Linked DNA regions of Homo sapiens: region 1 is linked to region 2. The links come from fine-mapping of genetic effects on gene expression. A gene starts in region 2. The other region holds a variant in brackets. All regions are shown on one strand. Distances are from middle to middle.

Region 1 (5,379 bases), 28 kb after region 2:
TCTTTTCTTCGCCTTGTCATTAAATAGTGCAGAAAAAGAGTCAGCTTTTGGAAGTGTTTGAAAATAGCCTTTTAATGTTTTAGGCAGCTGACTAAACTCTTGTTCAGAGCGGACTTTGGACCAGAAAATGGAATCATCACCTGGGGAAAAGGGAAATTAAAGGCTGTTTTAATTATGTGAAGAAAAACATTGATACAGTACTTTGCTGTTACTTAACGGTAATGCTATTTGCAGACTCCCTTACAATGAGGAAATCAGCCTTCTTAGGAAGGAAGAGGCTTTTTTTTTTGAGACGGAGTCTCACTCCTGAAGCCCAGGCTGGAATGCAGTGGTGCCATCTCGGCTCACTGCAACCTCCACCTCCTGAGTTCAAGTGATCCTCCCACCTCAGCCTCCCAAGTAGCTGGGATTACAGATGCCCACCACCACGCCTGGCTAATTTTTGTATTTTTAGTCGAGATGGGATTTTGCCATGTTGGCCAGGTGGGTCTTGAACTCCTGGCCTCAAGTGATCTGCCTGTGTTGACCTCCCAAAGTGCTGGGATTATAGGCGTGAGCCACTGTATCTGGCCAGAAGATGATTCTTAAGGCACCTCAGAAAAGGATACCCTAATTAGAATGGAAGATTTGAAAGATGGTAGAATAAAGGATTTTCTATATGGAGTGTTTTTTGCCCACCCCAAAGCCACAGAGTAAATTTTGTCTGCTCCTAAGGTTAATTATATTTCTGAAAGAAGTGATTAGTTGATGAGATGAATCCTGTATCCCCTCCACCACTCTTCACCGTATCCAAGTCTGGACTTCCCTTTGGTTTGGTTTTGTTTTCAGTGTAAGATGAGTGTCAAGTATCATTGTATAATATAAGTCAAATCTTAATTTAAATGTCTTTTTGTTGATCAGCCTTGTCAATGGAAAAGTTAATTCTCTAAAAAAACTGAAAGAAAATATTTCAGGGTTTTCAGATTTTCTGTGCTAATTGAACTTATACTGATATACCCACAAATAGCCAACTTAGCTGAGATTTGGCATATATGTTAAAAGTAAGAATGAATTAAAAGCATGTTGTGACACTGCTGGTAATGTAGATATACTTGGTATAGCAAAATCGGGGGACTAAATCATTATTGCAATGCTTTTTTTTTTTTGAGATGGAGTCTTGCTCTGTCTCCCAGGCTGGAGTGCAGTGGCGCAATCTACGCTCACTGCAAGCTCTGCCTCCCGGGTTCACGCCATTCTCCTGCCTCAGCCTCCCCAGTAGTTGGGACTACAGGCGCCCACCACCACGCCCGGCTAATTTTTTTTGTATTTTTAGTAGAGACGGGGTTTCACCATGTCGGCCAAGATGGTCTCGATCTCCTGACCTTGTGATCCGCCCGCCTCAGCCTCCCAAAGTGCTGGGATTACAGGCTTGAGCCACCGCGCCCGGCCCTATTGCAATGCTTTTTTACCTGGGGCCTGTGGATGGTCCTTAGAAGTTCTAATGAATGCCTTGGTATTGAAGGCAAGATTTTAGGTGTCTGTGCTTTTGTCACCGGAGAGGATTGGTAGCTTTCATCAGATTTTCAACAAAAGGGTCCGTGTCTCACAAAAAAGTTAAGAACCACAGACATTTGAACATACTCTGTACATTGGACTTAAAAAAAATTGATCAAAAGTAACTTACCCTAGCATCCATATCTTCTCTTTCCACTCTGAAAGGCTTAGAATATTAGATATTATAAGATGTACAACTTAACTTTCTATTTAGAATTTTAAATCCCAATGCAATGGCTATAAAAATTATTTCATGAATAAAGAAAGTCTGTAAAAATGAGACACAGTGGGGCCTGGCGTGGTGGCTCATGCCTGTAATCCTAACACTTTGGGAGGCCAGTGCAGGCTGACCACTTGAGGTCAGGAGTTTGAGACCAGCCTGGCCAACATGGTGAAATCCCATCTCTACTAAAAATACAAAAATTAACTGGGAGTGGTGGCATGTGCCCGTAGTCCCAGCTACTCGGGAGGCTGAGGCAGGAGAATTGCTTGAACCCAGGAGGCAGAGGTTGCATTGAGCTGGGATCATGCCACTGCACTCCAGCCCGGGCGACAGAGTGAGACTCCATCTAAAAAAAAAAAAAAAGAGACATATTGCTTTTGACTATGGGATGGTCTTAATAATGTGGATGAAAATTTTCCTGAGATCTGGTGGACTATGTGGAGGAAGAGGGTGTGTTGGATGGCCCCAGTAGTGCTGTGGGTGAAAAATGTCACCTGGACGCCACTGGGAGGCGCTGTGGTACAGGGAGTGACAGGAACCCAGTGTCTACTATTGCCTCAGCTTCCAACTCCCGGGAGACCTTGGACAGGTCACTTAATGTCACTCTGGGTCAATTTTGTTATCTGCAAAATAAAGTATTCTTTTCTCAATGTGTTTCGATGAGACTAAGATATGACAAATGGCAAAGCGCTTTTCTTTTTTTCTTTGAGACGGAGTTTCGCTCTGTCGCCCAGGCTGGAGTACAGTGGCGCGATCTTGGCTCATCACAACCTCTGCCTCCCAGGTTCAAGCGATTCTCTTGCCTCAGCCTCCCGAGTAGCTGGGATTACAGGCGCACACCACCACACCTGGCTAATTTTTGTATTTTTAATAGAGATGGGGTTTCACCATGTTGGTCAGGCTGGTTTCAAACTCCTGACCTCAGGTAATCTGCCCGCCTCGGCCTCCCAAAGTGCTGGGATTACAGGCATGAGCCACCTGCATGGCCTGGCAAAGCACTTTTTAAAACGTGCACCATGACCGTTAAAATAAATATGTAGATAAAAATTGCCAAGATATATTAAGACTGAGGTGCAGAGTAGTAATTTATAGCATGATGGGTTTTGTGTATGAATTTTTACTCAAACATATAGGTGATATATGCAATTTTTTTCTAGAAAAATAAAGAGCTGTGGTTATCTTTAC[G/T]GAATAGACTAGGACAGGGGAGGGAGGCTTTACTCTTCATTTTATTATTTCTATTAAAAATATTAACAGGGGGCCACTGCTGTGGTTCCTGCCTGTAGTCCCAGACTTGGGAGGCTGAGGTGGGAGGAGCTCAGGAGTTTGAGGCTGCAGTCAGCTGTGATGGTGACACTGCACTCCAGCCTGGGCAACACAGTAAGATCCTGTCTTAAAATATATATATATAAGCCGGGTGCAGTGGCTCATACCTGTAATCTCAGCACTTTGGGAGGCTGAGGCGGGCAGATCTCCTGAGTCCAGGAGTTAGAGACCAGCCTGGCCAACATGGTGAAACCCTGTCTCTACAAAAAATACAAAAATTAGCCAGTTGTGGTGGTGTGAGCCTGTAATTCCAGCTACTCAGGAGGCTGAGACACGAGAATCGCTTAGCCCGGGAGGTGGAGGTTGCAGTGAGCCAAGACTGTGTCACTGCACTCCAGCCTGGGCGACAGAGTGAGACCCTACCACAAACACACACAAAAAATTAAAAAAAAATCATATATATGAAGTATATAAAAATATATACTATATAAAAATATAACTATAAAAATGTATGTATAATATATATTTTATGTAATATATAATATATATTGAAATATATATTAATATTATATATTATTTATATATTAATATATATCTGTACAGCGGGATTATGTTTTGTTTTCTCTGTCATTTCCTCTTGAAAAACTAAAAATAATTTTAAAAATTGAAAGACTCTTGGGAAGAGGGTACTGTGTAGTTGTTAGGTGGGACTGTTATTAATGAAGAATAATCATAGCTGATTTAAGGCCTGATCATAGGAGAGTGTTTACAGGAAGATGCTGCCCAAGGATGAGGACGCATCACAGATTCATTCTCTGGGTCCCTTAAATAGAACAAACCCAGTGACAGTTTTCCTCCCCTAAGAAATCTGTGTCCCTGGCATGCTGTCCTGTGAGACCATGCTGCTGGATTTATTTGCAGCTAACTGCTTCATGCCAGCACCGCTGGAGAGCATTGCCCCAGCAACTGTCCCCTCTCCCAGTTTTCTCCCCTTTCCACTGGATCATTCTCTCCTCACATGCAGGCCTTCCCTAATTCTTGCCTTTCTCGCAGAAGTCTTTGCTTCTGCCTTTGTAAGTTGGGGTAATAATGATGTCTAGGGAGCCTGGTGCATAGTAAGTGACTCTAAAAATAAAAGCACTTATTACTGTTGTGCACTTGAAGTTAAAGGAGAAGTTTCTGGGTTCAGCCCCACAGTAGTACCCTCGGAGGGGTGACTGAGGCCTCTGATTCTTGGTAGGACAGGCACTGCTGGTGAGCTTGGGTGCCTAGCTCCTGCAAACACAGGGTTCCGCAGAGGCCTCATTTTCAGAAAACCCTGTGTTGACCCTACCTTCTTTGTCTCTTTGCTTTCTTTCATTCATTGGGTTCTCTAAAGAGGATTCTGTACTGTACTGTCTCTCTCCAGGTCCTCTCCTCCCATTCTCTCTTTCAGCTTTGTTTTTTTATTGAGACAGAGTGTTGCTCTGTCACCCAGGCTGGAGTGATTGGCATGATCTCGGCTCACTGCAACCTCCACCTCCTGGGTTCAAGTGATTCTCCTGCCTCAGCCTCCCAAGTAGTGGGATTGCAGGTGTGTGCCACCACACCCAGCTAATTTTTTTGTATTTTTAGTAGAGACGGGGTATTGCCACGTTGGCCAGGCTGGTCTTGAACTCCTGGCCTCAAGTGATCCACCCACCTCAGCCTCCCAAGTGCTGGGATTACAGGCGAGGGCCCCTGCGCCTGGCCCTTCCTGCTGTCTTAAGGCCCCAGGGCTGGGGCATCTCTGCTCTTCTTCATACTCACTCTCCAGGGGCCCTCTTCCAGTCTCAGGGGCTTAAACCCCATACACATATATGGCATCAACTCCTAAATTTGGACCTTTCCTCTGATTCCAGAGCTAATCTATTCATCTACTCTTGGATGTCTAATATGCAATACAAAATCAACACGACCAAAACAGGACTCCCGAGTCACCACACCTTCCTGTCCTTCAACTTGCTCATCCCATAGCCTTCCCTCTAGTGGCTCAGACCAAACATTTTGTCGTCATGCTTTACTTCTCTGTTTTTCTCACTCCCTGTATTGCATATATCAGCAAATCCTCTTGGTCCTCCCTTCAAAATATATCCAGAATCTGACCCCTTCTCATGATCACAGCTACCCCCTTGTCTAAGCCCCTTTAGCTCTTGTCTGGGTAATTGCAATAAACTCCTCATTGATGTCCATGCTACCATCCCGTAACAGAGTATTCTGAGCAGCTCAAGAGATCACTTTATTTTTATTTTTGATTTGTAGTCATTCCATTTAACTTTAATTTAATTTTTTTTTTTTTTAGATATGAGGTCTCACTTGTTGTCCAGATGGGGCTGGAACTC
Region 2 (5,379 bases):
TTCTGAATCACAGAAAGGCTCAGAGAAAAGAAAGAACCTGGTTAAGATTTCACAGCTAGGGAAAGATGAAAACTTGAAGGGTACTAGCAGGACGGTTCCAAAGACAAATGTACAAGAGAATTGAACCGTTTCACATTGTTCACCACTAGACTGTTAAAAACAAATATACATATTTTAAAAACTTACCTTCGATATACGAATAAGGTCCCTTCTATATCAGTCTTCTCCTATGAAAGACAATGACTCAATTAGTTTTTTTTCCCCATAATCAGACCCCAAATAGTCCCCATGGAGAAGTAATGCTTCACGTTTAAGATCAACTTGTTTCATTTCATCTATTATAAAATTAACCACTTTTGAACAGGTAAAGTCTCCCTCTCATTCCACAAATTGTGGTTACCATTTCTAATGTATCCTTTCAGTGCATAAGCATATGCAATATTTAATCCAGCAACATATCTGTATCTGCAGTATTTTTCTTTTTTAATTAGTAAAGGAGAAAATCATAGAATAAACCTTCACTTTTTATAGCTAAAATATTTTAGCCAGATTTCTTAACTTTAAAGCTAAGGTCCTGTATACTGCAATTTCTTCTCTTTTAAGTTTATCCAAGTTAATTTTAAAAAAGGAAAGGAATGAAACTTTCTTATAGGATACTTTGTTTCATCACTAGGGAGTTTTCGTACATTTTGACAACTAGCAAATTTTGTGGTTAAGAATTACTACCAAACAAAATCAGCTTGTTATTTTTAGAACTTGAAGAATCTTGAATACTGAAAGTATACCCTGCCTCAGTGTAATTATTGGAGGCCTTTACCATAGTTCATTTTCTGTGACAAGAGTGTATTTAGGTTTTAAACACAGTTCAGTGTTTTTTAAAAAATAAATAAGCTTATTAGTCTGCAATTTACAGCCTACAATGGACCTAAATATTTTACTGTAATCAACGCATTATTAACATTTTAAATGTTAGTCATATATTGAATGTGTTGGGATTAAAAAATTTAGAAAATTGATCATCTCGATTTCTTCCAGAAGTACTACCCTAGCTTAAATATCATTATTTTCCTTCCTAAGGATTCAGAGGCTTTTTCTTACCTTTAAAATGTTAGGTTATTACTATAAGAAACTGGTAATCAACTGTCTTACAGTAAAAGAAAATTTGCCCACCAAAAAACATCATGCAAAGTTACAACTCACTGTAAAATAATAAAGAGGGAAAAGATTTTTGTCATGCTCTATGTGCCAGGATCCAAATAAACAGTAGCAGCTTATTTTTCAATTCAGGTTATTATAGCTTGTATTTCATATTTAAAACAGAACTCCACAATGTAAAATTTTAAAATATTGAAAGCCTTTGTGAAAAACTAGGAAAACTCTAGCCCCAAGTCTTCACCATTTGTCGGCAATCCATATTTCAAAATTTATATATAGGCCAAGAAAAGAAAAAAGATTCATAAAATTTCAAACTAAGGCAATGTCTAAAATAGCTACATTTAAAAAACAATCTACAATTTTATTCCTTGTGGCTTCCCATATCTCCTTCTCTTCCAGGAGGCAAAGATAAACAACGTGATTATAAAAACTCTTCATCTGAATTAACTGTTCATAAATGCCAAATGATTTTCGATAAATTACTGATAAATATAATCTATGCAACTGTATTATAGGGTAAACGACATACTACGGTCATCTTCCAGAGTTCTGTCAGTTTAAGGATTTCGTATCTTATTGAAATGTGAACTCCAGTCATTGGTGAATTCAATCCAACAAGCATTTACGTATTACTTTCTAAGTGTAAAGCCTGTAGCTGAATGAGTTAATTAGGAAGGGTCAATTACAAGAAAGTGGGAAATTATGCTTTTTAAACAACTAACAAAGCTTCAAGCAGGGGCTAACAAGAATCAGTGAACACACTGAATGTGACTTTTCGGACCCTCCCCAGTGCACGAAAGCCAGAAAGTACTGAGTCCGAGGGGAGCATTCAGAGATGACATCACCAGCATCATAGATGGAACAAAACACATTTACAGGGTCTCTCTTGTTTGTACAAAGGTCTTCGGGGATCCAGTGAACACGGAAGCCCTTTTCCTAAGTGCCTTGGAATCTTTTCCGAAACTCTGTGTAGTTCGATTAAAGCCGGACCCACCCACCCCCTCCTTCCAAGAATCGAAACTAATTGGATTTTAAACTTTAAACCCAAATGACCTCTGCGACAGGGGCTCTCATTTACGTTTGCCAGGGGGAGAGGAGGAGTGTTTATTTTATAGATAATGTACATATAATTTATCTAATAATCCGCAAAGCCTCAAACACAAGCTTTCAGGCACCCTTTTGACCCCACCGGTCTTATAACTCCCAATGTATCTGCAAAGAAGGCAGGTCGCCCACGTCCCCAGACCCGACGCCAAGGGACTGATCCTGCTCCAATCCTCCCCTCCACTGGCTTTTCCTTGGGATGTCTCGAGCCACTTCTCTCACTCCTATCCCCCAATCCCAAGCGGACCCGACACCCCTCAGGCTCTGGCTAGGCTCTTGGCCAGACCCTGGCCTCGTCTCCACCGCCCTGGCCTCTTAGTGTGCCCCCCCACCCCACAGTAACCCGCGCGGCCCCTTTAAGAGACGGCAGCGGCCGGGTGGCCGTCCTCAGGGCCAGGCGGCACTCACCCACTGGTTGGCCTTGGGGCAGAAGGTGTACAGAGCGACCTGGCCCGTGAGGTCTGCGATGCTGGTGATATAGGGGTCGTGTTGCTTCAGGGCCGCTAGGCTCATCTCCTGCCCAGCTCGACTCAGCGCCTCCATCTTGAATCCCAGAGCCTAGCCCCTCTGGTGGGGGCGGAGTCGCGGACAGGAAAGTGCCATCGAGGCAAAATTCCCCCATCTGCGTCAGTCCCCTCAACTTCCGCCTCTACGCGGGCCTCGCGGCAGGGCGGTACGTCAGCCATTCTGGTCCGCCGCGCGCACGCTCCGGGCGCCGGGTTCCGGCGTTGTCAGGGTCCGCGGCCCTACGATGTGGGCGGTGTCCAAGGCTGCGTAGTGGAGCTTGCAGGCTGGAGCTCCGGCGCTTCCTTTCCCTGAGCTAAAACGACTGGGTCCTGGGATCTGGCCTCTAGCTCGCCTGCCGAGCTCTTTCCAGGCAAAGGTTGGAGACCGCCGAAGTGCCGGCCTCGCGGTGCGCTGTCTGGCAGGGCCCGGGGCCACAGAAGGAAAACATGTCTGTGGAATGTGGAAATGCGGGACTCTACCGGGCCCGTTTAGAGAGCACAGAAAAACATGGGGGAAAGGGAGAGGCGAGAAGCCCAGAAAATTACCCTAGGTCTCAGATATGGATGTGTCGACCTAAAAGGAAGAAGACTCTGGGGCAAAATAAATGCAAGCAGAGAGTTTATTTGGGCCAAGCTTGAGGATTGCACCCCAGGAGCATAGATTCAAGTTGCCTTGAATATATACACTGATTAGCAGAAGGTACAAGTGGATTTTTTTTCTTTTTTTTTGAGACGGAGTTTCACTCTTGTCGCCCAGGCTGAAGTGCAGTGGCGCGATCTCGACTCACTGCAACCTCCGCCTCCAAGGTTCAAGCGATTCTCCTGTCTCAGCGTCCCCAGTAGCTGGGATTACATGGGCGCGCCACCATGCCCTGATAATTTTTGTGTTTATAGTAGAGACGGGGTTTCGCCATGTTGGCCAGGCTAGTCTCGAACTCCTGACCTCAGGCGATCCACCCGCCTCTGCCTCCCAAAGTGCTGAGATTACAGGCTTGAGCCACCGCGCCCGGCCCTTTTCTTTTTTTCTTTTTGAAACGGAGTCTCGCTCTTTTGCCCAGGCAGGAGTGCCGTGGCACAATCTCAAGCTCACTGCAACCTCTGCCTCCAGGGTTCAAGCGATTCTCCTGCCTCAGCCTCCCAATTAGGTGGGATTACAGGCGCCCGCCACCACACCTGGCTAATTTTTTCTTTTTCTTTTTCTTTTTTTTGAAATGGAGTTTCGCTCTGTCGCCCAGACTGGAGTGCCGTGGCGCGATCTCAGCTCACTGCAACTTCTGCCTCCTGGGTTCAAGCGATTCTCCTGCGTCAGCCTCCAGAGTAGCCGGGATTACGGGCGCCCGCCACCACGCCCAGCTAATTTTTGTATTTTTTTTAGTAGTGACGAGGTTTCACCACATTGGCCAGGCTGGTTTTGAACTCCTGACCTCAGGTGATCTGCCCTCCTTGGCCTCCCAAAGTGCTGGGATTACAGGCGTGAGCCACTGCGTCTGACCCACATAAATATTTTTGTCCAGCCCTGGGAAGAGTCCATGAAGGGTTTAATTTGTCTTGCTTCATTTAAAGCATTAAGCAGATCACTCATTTCATTGGTAAGTGTCTGTTGAGCATTTTAAAGCGTTTGAAAGAGTTAGGCACTAGCTAACAAGTAAAACAAATCATGGAGACTATAGGGAGTTCTATCCCCGCCAGACTTCTTAAAAAGCAACATTTCTTTCGTTAAAAAGGTCATGGAGGCTGGGCGTGGTGGCTCATGCCTGTAATCCCAGCACTTTGGGAGGCTAAGGTGGGAAGACCGCCTGAGGTCAGGAGTTTGAGACCAGCCTGGACAATATGGTGAAACCCCGTCTCTACTAAAAATACAAAAATTAGCCGGGCGTGGTGGCGCACGCCTATAGTCCCAGCTGCTTGGGAGGCTGAGACAGGAGAATCACTTGAACCCGGGAGGCGGAGGTTGCAGTGAGCCAAGGTGGTGCCATTGCACTCCAGCCTGGGCGACAGAGCAAGACTCAAAAAAAAAAAAAAAAAAAGGGTATGGTAGCTAGATGTGTGGGCTCACGCCTGTAATCCTAACACTCTGGAAGGCCGAGGAAGGTGGACCACTTGAGGTCAGGAGTTGGAGACCAGCCTGGCCAACATGGTGAAACCCCATCTATACTAAAAATACAAAAATTAGCTGGGCGTGGTGGCACATGCCTGTAATCTCAGCTACTCAAGAGGCTGAGGCATGAGAATAGCTTGAACCCAGGAGACGGAGGTTGCAGTGACACAAGATTGCACCACTACACTCCAGAGCTTGGGCAACAGAGGGAGAAATTCCATCCAAAAAAAAAAAGGGGGGGGCATGGTGGCATGTAACTGTAGTCCCAGCTATTTGGTAGGCTGAGGTGGGGATCACTTGAGGTCAGGAGTTCAAGACCAGCCTGAGCAACATAGCAAGACTACGTCTGGAAAGAAAAAAAAATTGACATCCCCAACAGAATTGAAAATTTTTGTAAGATAAAACCATATTTTCAAGAAAATAACACTAAATATTTGTATTGCCTATGATTTTATATCCCAGGACCACTGTTTTTTGTCATTGTGTTGATGAGAAGAGTCAAACTCTGTAAAATAG

What was found. PIP is the estimated chance that this variant, and not a neighbour inherited with it, causes the effect.
Region 1: its variant is fine-mapped to the expression of DCP1A in whole blood (GTEx, PIP above 0.99).

The regions. Positions count from the first base shown.
Region 1 is chr3:53,372,932-53,378,310 of GRCh38, forward strand. No RefSeq gene overlaps it. Among named protein-coding and RNA genes, the nearest start is that of DCP1A, 28 kb to the left of the region's middle. RefSeq lists a silencer at 2,303-2,352. The variant G/T (reference allele first, on the strand shown) is at 2,942.
Region 2 is chr3:53,344,716-53,350,094 of GRCh38, forward strand. It overlaps DCP1A (decapping mRNA 1A), which reads right to left and starts at 2,828. Exons shown (of 10, transcript NM_018403.7): 1 at 2,668-2,828; 2 at 187-227. The coding sequence starts at 2,802. RefSeq lists enhancers at 1,836-2,426, 2,427-3,017, 2,553-3,322.